Linked DNA regions of Homo sapiens. The protein of the gene in region 1 interacts with the protein of each later gene in a pairwise test. Each region holds a gene or a part of one and is shown on either strand. Other genes may lie near its edges.

The links. Proteins that work in one complex are often made in the same cells at the same time.
Region 2: the proteins of IKZF3 (region 1) and CABP5 interact in binary tests that used the Homo sapiens proteins (3 or more experiments, as listed by UniProt).
Region 3: the proteins of IKZF3 (region 1) and CRYBA4 interact in binary tests that used the Homo sapiens proteins (3 or more experiments, as listed by UniProt).
Region 4: the proteins of IKZF3 (region 1) and NATD1 interact in binary tests that used the Homo sapiens proteins (3 or more experiments, as listed by UniProt).

What each region holds. Positions count from the first base shown.
Region 1 is NC_000017.11:39,762,180-39,767,753, reverse strand, and holds part of IKZF3 (zinc finger protein Aiolos), read left to right. Parts: intron 1-1,260; coding exon 1,261-1,964; 3' UTR 1,965-5,574. UniProt on the Homo sapiens protein: Transcription factor that plays an important role in the regulation of lymphocyte differentiation. Plays an essential role in regulation of B-cell differentiation, proliferation and maturation to an effector state.
Region 2 is NC_000019.10:48,031,482-48,035,115, reverse strand, and holds part of CABP5 (calcium-binding protein 5), read left to right. Parts: intron 1-753; coding exon 754-901; intron 902-3,634. UniProt on the Homo sapiens protein: Inhibits calcium-dependent inactivation of L-type calcium channel and shifts voltage dependence of activation to more depolarized membrane potentials. Involved in the transmission of light signals.
Region 3 is NC_000022.11:26,627,030-26,631,169, forward strand, and holds the end of CRYBA4 (beta-crystallin A4), read left to right. Parts: intron 1-1,258; coding exon 1,259-1,401; intron 1,402-3,310; coding exon 3,311-3,458; 3' UTR 3,459-3,640; downstream 3,641-4,140. UniProt on the Homo sapiens protein: Crystallins are the dominant structural components of the vertebrate eye lens.
Region 4 is NC_000017.11:21,240,891-21,244,446, reverse strand, and holds part of NATD1 (protein NATD1), read left to right. Parts: intron 1-222; coding exon 223-341; intron 342-1,017; coding exon 1,018-1,134; 3' UTR 1,135-3,556.

The sequences.
Region 1 (5,574 bases):
TTCTATATATATATAGGTCTTATTTCTCATCCACTAGGTTGGAGACACCTCAAGAACAGGAACTGGTTCTTCCAATCCTTTTGTTTTCTCATGGCATTTTTTCTTCTTCTTCTTTATTTTCATTGCTGAACCCTTTACTGTAGGGCAGTGACAAATTTTGGAATCTCAACATGACTAGGAAACATTATAGAAGGATATGGTTTAGCAAATCCCTCCAGGATCCAAGCTGACAGAATGGAGAGGCTCAACAGTGACCTCAGCCTCACCTCCAGCACTCGGCTCCACTTCCTCGCTTTCTCTCCCCTCTCCCCACCACTCACCACTGAGCACATCTGCCCTCACTGCAGTCCCCATCCCTGCCTTCCCTGTGACCAGAGAGCCTCTGTTTTCTAACACACAACACCCACACACTCTGAAGGTGGCTAAACTCTGTTTTCAAAACTTCTCAGCAGTTTGACATGAGAAGTAGGAGAGGGTGACCACAAGTATATTTTTTCAGTTAAGTGTGAGATAGGCCCTAATGATCACATGTGTATCAGAGATACACTTGCCAAGCAAAGGAAGAGAAACACACGTTAGGAAAGGGACAAAGACCATGATCTCTTCTCAAGAAAACTTTTCTCAAACTTTCTACATTTGAAGCTCTTTCACTTCAGTCTCAGTCAGCCAGGACGGGTGAGTTTGGGGAGTAGCCAGTTGGAGTCTGGGGGGCTATTTTCTCTATCTCTGTAGCTATTTAAAAAGCTGCCGAGGTGAGGCACCGAGTGTCCCCACTCTTTGCAGCACTTCTGTCCCCCTGGCTACCTAATATTGCAAGCAGAAAATAACAAGCAAAAGCAAAATAAGAGTTGGGAGCCGACTGTGTCTTAAGAGATCATGAACTATAGCAGAAGTCCCAGGCTCCTGTGGGCTGGTGGCTCCCTTGTCCCTCTAGCCCCATCCTAGTGTCCTGCTTCTTTCCCTCCTTTCTTGAGGGCTCTCCTCTAACATGCACAGTGGGCATACCTTACCATGTGGCCTCAACTGAACCACATCTCTGCCCCTCTCTTCTGCCTGCTGGCTTTATTTTAACCATCCAAACACGTTGCTGCCGACCAGTGTCCCCTGAGACAGCACCATGGGAAACCATTCTGCCAGGCTTGGTCTTCTTGAGCAGCAGGCAACTTAACTCTCCTCCCTTTTTGAGGTCTCTAGAAAATATTTACAAACTCTCTGCCTTGGCAGTGTTCCCTTTGTAACCCTTTCTGTCACTTGTTCCAGGTGAGAAGCGCCACTGCTTTGATGTCAACTATAATTCAAGTTACATGTATGAGAAAGAGAGTGAGCTCATACAGACCCGCATGATGGACCAAGCCATCAATAACGCCATCAGCTATCTTGGCGCCGAAGCCCTGCGCCCCTTGGTCCAGACACCGCCTGCTCCCACCTCGGAGATGGTTCCAGTTATCAGCAGCATGTATCCCATAGCCCTCACCCGGGCTGAGATGTCAAACGGTGCCCCTCAAGAGCTGGAAAAGAAAAGCATCCACCTTCCAGAGAAGAGCGTGCCTTCTGAGAGAGGCCTCTCTCCCAACAATAGTGGCCACGACTCCACGGACACTGACAGCAACCATGAAGAACGCCAGAATCACATCTATCAGCAAAATCACATGGTCCTGTCTCGGGCCCGCAATGGGATGCCACTTCTGAAGGAGGTTCCCCGCTCTTACGAACTCCTCAAGCCCCCGCCCATCTGCCCAAGAGACTCCGTCAAAGTGATCAACAAGGAAGGGGAGGTGATGGATGTGTATCGGTGTGACCACTGCCGCGTCCTCTTCCTGGACTATGTGATGTTCACGATTCACATGGGCTGCCACGGCTTCCGTGACCCTTTCGAGTGTAACATGTGTGGATATCGAAGCCATGATCGGTATGAGTTCTCGTCTCACATAGCCAGAGGAGAACACAGAGCCCTGCTGAAGTGAATATCTGGTCTCAGGGATTGCTCCTATGTATTCAGCATCGTTTCTAAAAACCAATGACCTCGCCTAACAGATTGCTCTCAAAACATACTCAGTTCCAAACTTCTTTTCATACCATTTTTAGCTGTGTTCACAGGGGTAGCCAGGGAAACACTGTCTTCCTTCAGAAATTATTCGCAGGTCTAGCATATTATTACTTTTGTGAAACCTTTGTTTTCCCATCAGGGACTTGAATTTTATGGAATTTAAAAGCCAAAAAGGTATTTGGTCATTATCTTCTACAGCAGTGGAATGAGTGGTCCCGGAGATGTGCTATATGAAACATTCTTTCTGAGATATATCAACCACACGTGGAAAAGCCTTTCAGTCATACATGCAAATCCACAAAGAGGAAGAGCTGACCAGCTGACCTTGCTGGGAAGCCTCACCCTTCTGCCCTTCACAGGCTGAAGGGTTAAGATCTAATCTCCCTAATCTAAATGACAGTCTAAGAGTAAGTAAAAGAACAGCCATAAAATAAGTATCTGTTACGAGTAACTGAAGACCCCATTCTCCAAGCATCAGATCCATTTCCTATCACAACATTTTTAAAAAATGTCATCTGATGGCACTTCTGCTTCTGTCCTTTACCTTCCCATCTCCAGTGAAAAGCTGAGCTGCTTTGGGCTAAACCAGTTGTCTATAGAAGAAAATCTATGCCAGAAGAACTCATGGTTTTAAATATAGACCATCATCGAAACTCCAGAAATTTATCCACTGTGGATGATGACATCGCTTTCCTTTGGTCAAGGTTGGCAGAGCAAGGGTATAAAGGGGGAAATTGTTTGGCAGCACCAACAGAAAACAAACAAACAAAAAACAGCTACCTAAAACTTCTTGAAAGAGTTCATGGAGAATTGGTGATACAGACCCAAAGCAAATTTGCCAATGATATTTTCCACAAAAAAAGTCCAAAAAGTATGGCTCAGCCTCCCCCTCCCCACAGGAGAGGAATTGGAGATAGATGGCATGTGTGTTTAGATCGGAGTTGAGCTCCGGAATGGGGTGAGGAGGGACACCTCTATTGAGAGGTTCTCCTTGATCAGGCAGGCTTCGGCCCTTTTTTTCCCATTTAAATGGAACTGCTGTATTCCATGAAAATTCCTGAAAGTCTGATCACGGTTCTGCAGATGTATAAGTCATCCTTGTCACTCATAATATGTACATACTATCAGGAGGAGTGCTGTTATCATGGTAAAATTAGCACTGGAATAGGAGGTCACAAAATGCTGGCTAATTAGCTATGTGACTTTGAGAAATCGTTTAACTTTTTTTTTTTTTTTTTTTTTGAGACAGGATCTCACTCTGTTGCCCAGGCTGGAGTGCAGTGGTGCAATCATGGCTCAGTGCAGCCTCGACCTCCCCAGGCTCAGGTGATCCTCCCACCTCAGCCTCTTGAGTACTGGGACAACAAGTGCACACCACCATGTCTGGCTACATTTTGTTCTTTTTGTAGAGATAGGGGTCTCACTATGTTGCCCATGCTGGTCTTGAACTCCTGGGCTCAAGCAATCAGCCCGCCTCAGCCTCCTAAAGTGCTGGGATTACAGGTGTGAGCCACCACACCCAGCCTTATTTAACTCTTAAAACTCAGTTTCCGGCCAGGCTCGGTGGCTCACACCTGTAATCCCAACACTTTGGGAAGCCGAGGCAGGCGCATCATTTGAGGTCAGGAGTTCGAGACCAGCCTGACCCACATGGTGAAACCCTGTCTCTACTAAAAATACAAAAATTAGCTGGGCAGTAGTGGCACATGCCTGTAATCCCAGCTACTCCGGAGGCTGAGGCAGAAAAATCGCTTAAGCCTGGGAGGTTGAGGTTGCGGTGAGTGGAGATCACACTACTGCACTCCAGTCTGGGCGACAGAGTGAGACCCTGTCTCAAACAAAACAAAACAAAAACAAACAAACAAAAACAAAAAAAACTCAGTTTCCTCATCCATAAAATAGGAATTAGATTTCAATGTTCTCTTAGGTCCCTTCTAGCTTTAATTCATATGTGATTATGCAGTAACCACAAGGTATTTTTTAAACCTCCTAATGTATGGATATTAAGCAGAAGAGTATTTATATGAATACATGTTTCACATTCCTTTGGTATGAAAATGGTGTGTTAAGTTTTTCCTTTAACCACTGAGTTGTGAATGTGAAGAAGGTGGTGGAGAGGAACAAAAAACAGAAAGGTATTTTGATCTTGCCACAAAGCATACACACAAATTGGCACATGCAGCTGTTTGCCAAAGCCTTCTTTTTTTTTTTACTTTTTAAGAAATTATGTTAGGGAAAATAAATTCTGCTTCCAGGGACAACTTCATGGAGCCTATTTACAAATTAAGAGTCAGCTTAATTTGTAACATTTCTACCAGAGCCAAGAATCCCAAATTCCTGGTAGATTAGTGTTTTATTTCTAAGGGGCTTATGCATTCGGCTCCAACTCAACTCGTCTATGTGCTGCCAGTAATTAAAATGTTCCACCTCAGACTGCACAAATGGCTTATCCTTCTTTGTGGCATGGCGTCTGTCTCAGGAAAAAAGGTTTTATGAAATTCCATGGCAACAGTCCCAACATGTTTGAGACTTCAGCTAAAGGAATGGATGTATTTTGGTGTGTAGTCTTCAGTATATCACTGTATTTCCGTAATACTAGACTCCAAGCTATGCCAGATTGCTTATTCCCTTTGTGAAAGAGGAGTTGCTCATTACGTTCTTGAAATATCGCACATCCTGTTGGTTCTTCAAGGGACAAGAGAAAGAGAATTTGGAAGCAGGGATTAGTAGAAGAGAAAACGAGGGAAAGGAAGCCTTTCCACCAGATTAGTGTTCAAGTCTTTGCAGAGGAGACCAACTTTTTTTGTTTTCTTTTGTTTTGAGACAGTCTCTCGCTCTGTTGCCCAGGCTGGAGTGCAGTGGCGCGATCTCGGCTCACGGCAACCTCCGCCTCCCGGGTTCAAGCAATTCTCCTGCCTCAGCCTCCCAAGTAGCTGGGATTACAGGTGCTCACCACCAAGCCCGGCTAATTTTTGTATTTTTAGTAGAGACAAGGTTTCACCATGTTGGCCAGGCCAGTCTCAAACTCCTGACCTCAGGTGATCTGCCCGCCTTGGCCTCCCACAGTGCTGGGATTACAGGCATGAGCTACCGCACCCAGCCTGAGACCACCTTTTGCATCTCAAGATTGTGAAACCAAGGCCCATTCCACCAGCCTGGGGACTCTTTTTATAGATATGATCCTCCTTTTTCCTGTGACTAATGAATTTGCTGCATGATTTCTATTCTTCTGAGGTTAGTTTTCTGAGTAAGGTGACCACTCACAAAGGCACTTTCTTTGTGGCATTCTGAGCCTAGATTGGGGCCCATCAATTCCAGAAAAAATTTATGTGTGGAAACTCTGCATCCTTAAGTCTTGAAGTTGAACCAGATATGCAGTGGTTACCATCACACAGATAAACGCTGCCTTCTGTACATACCCCTTATGCTGTACTAATTAACAAACCCCTTGCCAGGGCTGGGGAGGTGAGGGTGAAGGAGAATCTTAGCAGAAGGGCAGAGTCAGGACTTGCATCTGCCACTGCTGG
Region 2 (3,634 bases), on another chromosome or scaffold:
GACAGTTGCTTGTCAAAGGGTACAAAGTTTTGGTTAGACAGGAGGAATAACTTTTGAGATCTATTGCACAGCAGGATAACTATAGTAAATAATAATGTATGTTTCAAAAATCACCTAAAAAGTAAGTTTTAAATGTATCGCTGGGCACTTTGGCTCAGGACTGTAAGCCTAGCACTTTGGAAGGACAAGGTGGAAGGGTTGCTTAAGGCCAAGATTTTAAGACCAACCTGGCCAAAATAGTGAGACCCCGTCTCATTAAAAAAAAGTTTCGGCCGGGCACAGTGGCTCAAGCCTGTAATCTCAGCACTTTAGGAGGCTGAGGCAGGTGGATCAACTGAGGTCAGGAGTTCAAGATCAGCCTGGCCAACATGGTGAAACCCTGTCTCTACTAAAAATACAAATATTAAACAGGTTTGGTGGTGCGCGCCTGTAATCCCAGCTACTCGGGAGGCTGAGGGACGAGAATCGCTTGAATCCAGGAGGTGAAGGCTGCAGTGAGCTGAGATTGCACCACTGCACTTCAGCCTGGGTGACAGGGTGAGACTGTCTCAAATAAAAAAAAAAAAAAAAAGAAAGAAAAAAAGAAAAAAAAAAACAGAACAAAACTGTCTTTTGGAGCTGACGTTCTAGTGGCTCACATTCCCAAAGCTTTTATCTCAGTGCTTGACCCACAGTAAGCGATAGGTAAACTCCATCATCTCGTGGCTATCATCATTGTCATTGCTGATATAATCTATTTCTGCTTCTATTCAGTTTGACACGAATGGAGATGGGGAGATCACCCTGGTGGAGCTACAGCAGGCCATGCAGAGACTCCTGGGGGAGCGGCTCACCCCCCGGGAGATCTCTGAGGTTGTCCGGGAGGCTGATGTTAATGGAGACGGCACAGTTGACTTTGAAGGTGACATTGACGGGGCGTGGTGGGGAGCGGGGGCAGCCACCGCAGGAATCCACTTCCAACTCACTGTCAGATTTTCCAAGTTGGCCACTCCTTCTCACTCCTCTCCAAGTTTGAGAATGGAAGCGGGTGGCAGGTTTTGGAAGCATTTGTTCTGTCCCTTTCTTCCCAGGCTATTCATTTCAAAGAGCTGGGTGTCGCTCACTTCTGGTGGCTCCGAGGAACACCTCAGCCAAGGCCCTTTCCTTCCCATGCTCAGGACGCCCTTCCGCCTTGCCCATTCCTTGTTAGTTTGCAGGGCACCTTTTATCCTAGGAAGAACTTGTCCCATCAGAAAGAGACTGGACTGGCTAGCAGCTGGAGCTCTGGGGTCAGGTTCAGGGGCTTCAAATTCAGGATCATCGCTGACTCAGCATGTGGCTTATGCTACTCCCTTTTTCTCTTTAAGGGTCAGTTTTCCCATCTGTAAAATGAGGTGGATGATGACACCTTTTGGAGAAAACTAAAAGAAATCATGCACAAAGCACCACTGTATTTTTAAATTTTCCTTCCCTGTCTTTGCTCAAGTTGTCCTTCCGTCTGGAATACCCTTTCCCCTCTCCCCTGGCTAACTCCTAGTTATGTTCCTGGAAGGTACCTCCCACCTCTCTTACTGGGCTCCGTGTCCCTCTGCTGGCTCCCCAGTAATACCTCCCGCTTGCTTCTGCAGTAATACGGATTCGTGGCATCTCTAGAGTTTATTGCCTATTTCCTTCTGAGACCATGGACCAATTCCTTCATCATCACTATATCCCCAAATCCTAGCACTGAGCCCAGCATGAGTATATTGGATCACTGAATAAGTGAAAAGGATTGGGGTTCTACATGGATGAGACGTGGGGTTCTTTTTTATGTGAGGCATAGGAAGGCATGTCGGCCGGACATGGTGGCTCACGCCTGTAATCCCAGCACTTTGGGAGGCCGAGGCGAGTGGATCACCTGAGGTTAGTAGTTTGAGACCAGCCTGGCCAACATGGCGAAATCCTGTCTCTACTACGAATACAAAAAAATTAGCCGGAAGTGGTGGCAGGTGCCTGTAATCCCAGCTACTTGGGAGGCTGAGACAGGAGAATTGCTAGAACGCTGGGGGCGGAGGTTGCAGTGAGCTGAGATCGCGCCATTGCACTCCAGAGCAACACTCCGTCCAAAAAAAAAAAAAAAAAAGCATGTCAAGTTCTAATTGTGACATTCTTTGGTTCAAAGATCTCAGCACCTATCTGCTGCTTATGGACAAAAATCCAAAATTCTGGCCGGGCTCAGTGGCTCATGCCTGTAATTTCAGCACTTTGGGAAGCCAAGGTTGGCGGATCACCTGAGGTCAGGAGTTCGAGACCAGGGGGGCCAACGTGGTGAAACCCCATCTCTACTAAAAATATACAAATTAGCTAGGAGTGACAGTGCACGCCTGTAGTCCCAGGCTATACGGGGGCTGAGGCAGGAGAATTGCTTGAACCCAGGAGGTGGAGGCTGCAGTGAGCCGAGGTCACACCACTGCACTCCAGCCCGGGCAACAGTGAGACTCCATCTCAAAAAAAGAAAAAAAGAAAAAAAGGCCAGGCGCGTGGCTCACACCTGTAATCCTAGCACTTTGTGAAGCTAAGGCAGGCAGATTGCCTGAGCTCAGGAGTTCAAGACCAGACTGGGCAACACCGTGAAACCCATCTCTACTGAAATACAAAAAGTTAGCCAGGGGTGGTGGCATGTGCCTGTAGTCCCAGCTACTTGGGAGGCTGAGGCAGGAGAATTGCTTGAACTTGGGAGGCGGAGGTTGCAGTGAGATCGCCCCACTGCACTCCAGCCTGGGTGACAGAGCGAGACTCCGTCTCCAGAAAAAAAAAAAAAAAGTCCAAAATTATTTGTCTGATATGCAAGTCTATCCATCATCTGGCCTCGCCCACCCACCCAGCCTGTATCTTCTGTAGCTATTCTCTGAACTTTTAAGTTCTGGCACAAACTTGGTGCCTGCTTTATGTTCTCCAACCTCCGTTCCTAGGCATCAGATGCTCCGTCCACTTACCACATCTTTCAGTCTCATCCATCCCTCAGGAACTCACATCAAGGCAACCTTTGTCAGGAAGCTTCTCTCCATCCTTCCCTCATGTCTTCCTCCCAGCTGTGAAGTCTTACAGAAGTTTTTCTGTTCCTCTCCATGGAAGTTATCACAGCAGACCTTGCTGTGTTGAGTTGTATTAGCTTCCAAGGCCTCCATCCTAGATAGAGAGGAGGAAGGGCCATTCTCTAAACCATATATGCTGTATGTCCCAGTATGGAAACACAGTAGAGGCTGGTTGGACACCTGCTAGATCTAGCCAGGATTAGGTGTGCAGTGGACATCAAGTGACATCTGGAGAAGGTGGGGTGGGGGTGGGAGATGATCCTCAGGCCAACCAAAGGCAAGGGAAGGTCAGGATGACCTCAAGACCCGGGTGGGCAGCAAGATCGTCTTGAGCCACAGCAAAGTCAGGTGCAACCTGCATTCCTTCCAGGGTTCACCATTCACTATCCACGTGGCCTCAGGTATGTTGGTGACCCTCGCTGGCGTAAGTTTCCTTATCTGTAAAGTGACACTTATCCCTCCAGGATGGTTGAGATGATGAAATCTCATAGTGACAATCACAGGTTTTTTGGGTTTTGTTTTTTAGATGGAGTCTCACTCCGTCACCCAGGCTGCACTACAGTGGTGCAACCTTGGCTCAC
Region 3 (4,140 bases), on another chromosome or scaffold:
TTTGTTCATTTATTCTGCAAACAGTCTAGATATTGTGCTAATATAGGGACCCGTGGCGGGCTGCAACAGAAACAATCCCTCATTCCCAGCAGTTTGCAACTCCTGATTTCATTTAGTCCTCAAAAGAACCCTGAAAAATGGGTAGGGTTAGTTTCATTTTATAGATACAGGAACAGAGGCTCAGAAATCCTGTCTAACCTCAGTCAGTTGGTAAGTGGCAGCTGCCTCCTAGCAGGAAGGATTTGAGATGATATCTCTACACCTCCTTTCTTTCCTTCTTTTTTCTTTTCTTTTCTTTTCCTTTCCCCTCCCTCCCTCCCTCCCTCCCTCCTTTCTTTCTTTCTTTCTTTCTTTCTTTCTTTCTTTCTTTCTTTCTTTCTTTCTTTCTTTCTTTCTTTTTCTTTCTTTCTTTCTTTCCTTCTTTCTTTTTCTTTCTTTCTTTCTTTCTCTTTCTTTCCTTTTCTTTCTTTCTTTCTTTCTTTCTTTCTTTCTTTCTCTTTCTTTCCTTTTCTTTCTTTCTTTCCTTCTTTCATTCTCTGTCTTTCTTTTTCTTTCTTTTTCTCTTTCTTTCTTTCTCTTTCTCTCTCTCTCCTTCCTTCCTTCCTTCTCTCTCTCTCTTTCTTTCTTTCTTTCTTTTGATGGAGTTTTTGCTTTTGTTGTCCAGGCTGGAGTGCAATGCCACAATCTCGGCTCACTGCAACCTCTGCCTCCCAGGTTCAAGCGATTCTCCTGCCTCAGTCTCCCAAGTAGCTGAGATTACAGGCATGTGCCACCACGCTTGGCTAATTTTTTGTATTTAGTAGAGACAGGGTTTCACCATGTTCGTCGGGCTGGTCTTGAACTCCTGACCTCAGGTGATCCACCCTCCTCGGCCTCCCAAAATGCTGGGATTATAGGCGTGAGCCACCGCGCCGGGCCTCTACACCCTTTTTCTTAACCACAGTGTAATGCCTCAGCTTACCACTGGATCCCCAATTTTGGACATAAAAGTTGACTCCTTTTTTTGTTTGTTTGTTTTTGAAAAAACTGTTATGATGAACATTCTTGCAGCCTATTTATTCCATGATTATTTTCTTTGTGGAAATTTCTGGAAGGGCAAATGGCAAGGTTTCTGGTACCTGTTGCCTTATTGCCCTTCCAAAAGGTTTGCAAGGAAGGCTGATTTGGGAGACAAGGGCAGGGAGTGTGGAGGCCAGGAGAGGCTCCTGGGTTTCCAACTGGGAGCCTGCTGGTCTGACTGTGTTCCCTGTTCCTGTAGAACCACCGTGACTCGAGGCTGACAATCTTCGAGCAAGAGAACTTCCTGGGCAAGAAAGGAGAGCTGAGCGATGACTATCCTTCCCTCCAGGCCATGGGATGGGAAGGCAATGAAGTAGGGTCCTTCCACGTCCACTCTGGGGCGTAAGTGTATTCAAGGCTCTACCTGGCAGGGGAGGGGCTACTGGGAGGGGTAGGTGTACCTCCTGTGAAAACTGTGTGCTGGGGACTTTTGTGCTCTGATGCCCACATTCCAGAGGAGAACACTGAGGCACAGGGAGGTATCAGGCAGAATTTGAGGGACTGAAACCCAGATCAAACTGGTTTGAGCCCAGAAGATATTTATCAGCCCCTGTAATTAGCTTCAAGCATAGCTGGATCCAGGTACTACAGCAGGTATCTCTCTCCCCCCACAACCCCCAACCTGTTGCCCTGCCTGCCTCTGTGTGACTATATTCTTAGACAAGCTCTTCCTGTGTGAAGGCAAAGGTGGCGGCTTCATCGTTACATCCAGCCCTAGGGAAAGACAGTGTCCAGGCTCAGTGATTCTATTAAAGGTTCCAAGAAAGGTGCTCATTGGTCCAGCTGGGTCCTGTGCTCAACTCTGAACCAATCATCATGCCCATAGGAATGGGGTGTTCTGATTGGCTAGGTTTGGTCATGTGGTCCATTGCTAGATTCAGCCTCATTTTCTCACCTTGGCTGAGAGTGAGAGGCCACAGGCTCTTTGGCTAGAAGAGGGGAGAATGAATGCCCCTAGCCATAAAACACAGGTGTGGCTCCAGCAACCTGCTCAAAGTCCATCAGCAGGTAGGTAACAATCCAGCTTCAAACTCAGCACTGACTGGCCCTTTCCTTTCCACCCAGGAGGTGGCAGGTGAAGGCTAAGGTGTGAGATTCTTATTTAGGGAGGACATCAGAACCACTTTCTGAGGTGCCCCTTGGCTCCTGGTAGGCAGGGGGCAAAGATGGGAGGTAGGGTTTTTCATCTTTTTTTTTTTTCTTTTTTTGGCTTTAGTTTTCTCAGGAACCACCAAAGAATCATGTTGTTTTAGAGTAAGAGGGACCCCTTGTGATTCTTGAGTTCACTTCCTCTTTTACAGAAAGGGAAATGGAGGCTTGGAAAACCAGACACCAATCCTTGTCCTGAACAGAGTAGAAATCAATGAGTTGGGCCAGACACGGTGGCTCACGCCTGTAATCCCAGCCCTTTGGGAGGCTGAGGTGGGCGGATCACCTGAGGTCAGGAGTTCGAGACCAGCCTGGCCAACATGGTGAAAGCCCGTCTCTACTAAAAATACAAAAAATTAGCTGGGTGTCGTGGCTATGCCTCTAGTCCCAGCCACTCGGATGAGGCAGAATTACTTGAACCCAGGAGGCAGAGGTTGCAGTGAGCCGAGGTCATGCCACGGCACTCCAGTCTGGGCAACAGAGTGAGACTCTGTCTCAAAAAAAAAAAAAAAAAAAAAATCAATGAATTGAAATGATAGCTTTTTTTCTTGGAAGTGCCTCTGGATAAGGAAGGAGGGAGAAAGGGGAAAGAACAAGACTTCCCATTCCTTCACTTGTTCACTTATTCAGCAAATATTTAGGAACCCCTTCTTCCTTGCTAGACTTTTATATATTTATGCAGGTGGTGATAACGATGAACAAAACATACACGTTCCTACACTCAGGAGCTTGCCTGCTGGCAGGGGAGGCTGATATTTTACAAATAATTTGAAAACTATCGAATTACATGAGTGCTACAAAGGTATAATAAGGGACTGTGGCCTGATTTGGGGAACGAGTCAGATTGCCCTCATAATTAAGATGAGCCATGAAGGACAAATACAACTTGTCTAGGAAAAGAAAGGCTGGGATGGTGCTTCTGGCAAAGGGAATGGCATGATCAAAGGCCCTGTGGTAGGGGAGAGAGCATGGCACATTGTGAGCACTGAAGAAAGGCCAGGATGGCTGGAATTGTGTGCGTGTGCATAGATCCCTTTGCCCCTGTGTTGATCACCATGCTGGTGTCTCTGTAGAGTAACTGTCTGCCTTTTCTCTTTTCCAGCTGGGTTTGCTCCCAGTTTCCGGGCTACCGAGGATTTCAGTATGTGCTGGAATGCGATCACCATTCCGGTGACTACAAACATTTCCGGGAGTGGGGCTCTCATGCCCCGACCTTCCAGGTGCAGAGCATCCGCAGGATCCAGCAGTGAACAGGGGTGCGGCACGGAGGAGCGCATGCGTGCTTATCTGCAATGGAGGCGCTCTGGAGGCTGTGGTGTGTTCTCTCCTTCTGCCTCCCCCTGTAACCTGTGTGAACCCAGCACCCATGTGAACTGGTCCGTGCACAGTCAGCACAAAAAACTCAAACGAATAAAAAAGAGAAAGTCTGGTATTAGTTGTGCTTTTCAATTTTATTAATCTTTTCAAAGAACCGGTTTTTAGCCTTGTTTTCTCTATCATTATTCCACTGATTTTTACTCTTAACTTCAGTATTTCCTTTCTTCTATTTACTTCAGGCCTACTTTGTTCTTAGTTTTTCTAGCTTTTTTTTAAGGCAGACTTCTGGGTCATTAATTTTAGGCCTCTCTTTCCCCCACCCAGTACGGTCATTTAGCTATAAATTTCCCTCCAAGTATGGCTTTAGCTGCTTCCCACAAATATTAATTTGATGTGTTTTCATTGTCATTCAGTTTGATATTTTCTAGTTTCACTTGTGGTTTTTTTTTTTTCTTTTGACCTATGGGCTATTTAAAGGGATGTTATTTAAATTCCAAATACTTTAGGATTTTCTAGGTGTTTATTGTTATTGGTGTGTTTTTAAAGACCAATGTGGTCGGAGAACATATTCCTTAAGATTTAAGTCTTCTGCAATGAATTAAGACTTATTTTATG
Region 4 (3,556 bases), about 19 Mb from region 1:
CACGTCACAGAGGTTACCTCATTTAATCCTCCAAACCACCCTATGAAGGACATTTTATTGTACCTCCACTTTATGGATGAGGAGACTGAGGCACTGAGAGGTTATTCAGGATTCAGCTGTAGCAGCTGAATGACTCCAAATGCCTGTCCCTCCACCCGTCTTGGTGCCTGAGTCCGCTGGGATGGGAGTCAGCATAGGCTTACCTGTCTCCACAACCCCCAGGATGTCATGACCGGGCCGTCCTGCTCTATGAGTACGTGGGCAAGCGGATCGTGGACCTGCAGCACACCGAGGTCCCAGATGCCTACCGTGGGCGTGGCATCGCCAAGCACCTTGCCAAGGTAGGGCAGGCAGGTGGCAGGGCCAAGCGGGGACGGGGACATGGGGGCTGCCACCTTCGCTCCGAGGAGACGGTGGCCCTGGTGGCCACTTCAGCCTGCTTCTTGGCCCTGGGTCCTCTCTGGGCCAGTGGCCGCCTTTCTGGGCCCAGGCTCCTGTTCTGCAAGACCCTGGCGTGGCTGAGCCTCCAAGATCCTCACACACCTCCTGTGTGGCAGGTGCTTCACAGGAGCCCCATTCCTGCCCCCAACCCCTTCATCCTCAGGGCATCCCAAACCCCAGGCTGCCTGGAGAGCAGGTTTGGGCTTAATGAAGGGAGTTACAGCCAGAGCAAAGAATGACCGTCACTCCCCTGAGGGCTGCTGCTGGGACTTAGCTGGGCCGTCTGCCGGCTTCCCCTCCTCCACCCCCACCCCGCCAGGAGAATTGCAGGGCAACCTTTGTCCTCCATGCTGCCTGGGGCAAGGGGGCTTGTAGGGGAGAGGTGATGTGTTTTTTCCTTGTGTACCGGACCAGTCTGTGGGGATCATCCCAGGTGACACTGAAACTCAAGGGAGTTACTGACCTGGGCAAAGTGGAAGGGTGGCCAGGGAGCCGGGCCTGGGGAGGCAGCAGACAATGCTACCTTCTGGTGCCGGCTGCAGGCCCTGACCACTCTCCTCTCTGCCCGGCTCCCAGGCCGCCCTGGACTTCGTGGTGGAGGAGGACCTGAAGGCCCATCTCACCTGCTGGTACATCCAGAAGTACGTCAAGGAGAACCCCCTGCCGCAGTACCTGGAGCGCCTGCAGCCGTAACCCTGGCCTGCAGGCGGGAGCGCTCCCTGCCGGACTCTTCCACGTGGCCTTTGCCTGGCCCCACGTGCTCTCAGGAACCTGGTCCCACTGGGAACAGACTCAGAGTTATTTTTGTAAGGACACTCATCTGTGCCCCACGTCCAGATCCCTGGAGGCAGCTGACCAATGATGGGCGGTGACCCGGTAACCGAGGCGGCAAGGAGGCCAGGTAGTCCCGGCACCTCTCACTCTGCAGAGACCAGCGGCTTCGTGGGAGGCCTGTGGGTCACACGTAGGGGCTAGAGCCAGCCTGCATCCTGCCCACCGGGCTCCACTTGGAGATCAGCAGGAGGGCCAGTGTGGGACCCCTGCTGCCACCTCTCCTGGGCCTGTGTCCTTTCTGGAAATTAAGAAGGTGTGCTCCAGAGCCAAGAGGAGCAATAAGAAACCTCGTGTGCCAGCTTCTGAGGGTGGCAGTGCCAGACCCCACCTGCCAGCGGTGCTGCCCCTTTCTCAGACCCCCATGCCCAGTGCAGGCAGGGCCCTGGAAAGGGTCAGCTCTCCCTGACAGAGACCAGCAGAGTGAAGGACTGAGCACTGGCCAGGCTCAACCGTACGTGCGGTTCACACATGTGAACACACAGGATGCAGTCTACAGGCGGGCTGGTGGTGGGTGCCGGGGGTGTTTTCCTCTCCTTGGTACCCCCATCTTTTTTTTGGCCTCTCGTGTAGGTTCTGCAGGAAACCAAGGCCCCATCCCCATGGGCTGCTATCCCCTATACCCCTGTCTGCCAGGAGGAGATCCAAGGGGGCCTGAGCAGCTGCAGGCCCGCCCCTTGCTGGCCTTGGCCACCTGCCTGAGCCTTCTCCGAGGAGATGCCTTGGGGCTGGGGTGGGAGTGAAGCTGACTATTCTCCAAAAACCACCCTCAGCATCCAAGAGGAAGAAACATCAGCCACAGGGGTTTCTGTGCTGCTGCCAGACATCAGTGTCCTCTTTTGTGGCTGGCTACAGCCGGATACACTTTGCTGCCCATCTGGCCCTGGGCTCCTCCCCAACCCAGCCTTCCTGGGTGCAGCCTGGGAGACACACTAGCATGCTTTGGTGGGACCAGCCTTTCCAGGGCATGCTGGCTTCCCCTGGGGCTGACTCAGGTCCCGCCCTCTTGTGTCAGTGCTAACAAGGATCAGATTCGTCCCTGCCCTTCTGTAGAGCTGGAGGGTGACCTGGAGCCAGGGGCCCTTTAGGGCTGAGACATTTGTTAGTCGGAGTGATGCATCCCTACCCGGCTTCGGGGGGAGTCAGGCTGGGCTCTGGGCAGTACAGGGAGAGGTTCACCAGGACCCCCATGCCTTCCTCCCCCGGTGCAGGGGCAGTGGTCACCATGCTGACTCCTCCCTTTGACTCCATGCACGGGCGCTGGCTGGCCTGTGGTTGCATTTCCCACTCACCTCCTTGCTATCCCCAGTCTTGGCACCGAGACCCCCCACATTCCTTCTCCAGCAACAGCAGCCCAGGGGCCTTCCTGCCTGGACGCAGGACCACGGAGACCTGCATGTGCAGGGAGGCCTGGCAGCCTGCCGATGGGGGTCCCCGAGCCCCGGAGTCTCCTCGAAACCCCTGCTGTGGGTCACAGCATGGACCAGGAGGGGTCACCATCCTGAGTACCCCCGACATCCCTGCCCCTTGACCTGTGGCAGATGCTCCTGCCCTGGCCTCCAGGAAGTCAGCTCTTTTGCAAAGGGCTTGTGTGAGAGGTCGGAGAAAGCCCTGGGCCTCCAGGGAGATGCAGCTGGCAGGAGGTGGGCTGAGCTGCTCCGGGGCTAGGGGTGGCCCATTGCTGGCAGAATTTAAGGAAAGAGCAGGTTGTAGGCACAGAGGATGGGCAGCCAGGCCTGGGCCTTCCCCTTACTGTCCCAGGGCAGCAGAGCTAGGGTCCTCTTTTACCCTCCCTAAGGTCACCCCCTTCCCATCTACACGTCCCTCCCCAAGTTCAAGCACATAGTCAATCATGACCACTCAGGAGCTCAGTGAGCTGGGGCCATGTCCCTGTGGCCTCCAGCCCATCCGCAGGAGGGTCCCTTGCAGTGACAGCACAAAGAGTCCCCCACAGGAAGCCCCTGAGGGCCAGCATGGACCTTGAGAGCCAGGAGGGAATGGGCCTGGTGCCACTCTGTTCCCACTCCCACCTAAGATTCCTACCCCTGTGTTCTAGCAGGTGACTCTTGATCTGGCCAGCCCACAACAAATACTTGAACTAGGCAGCATGGGGTGGTGGAGGCCTGCAGAGGCCCCGGGCCCAGGAACTGAGACTAGGGCTTTCTCATGAGGCCTCATCAAGCTCCCGCAGGTATGACCTGGCCTCCTCGCCTCGGGCTGCCTTAAAGCACCGCTAACCCACGCCAAGGGGCTAGGCAGGGCTTCGCGGGGCCTGGCCCAAGGT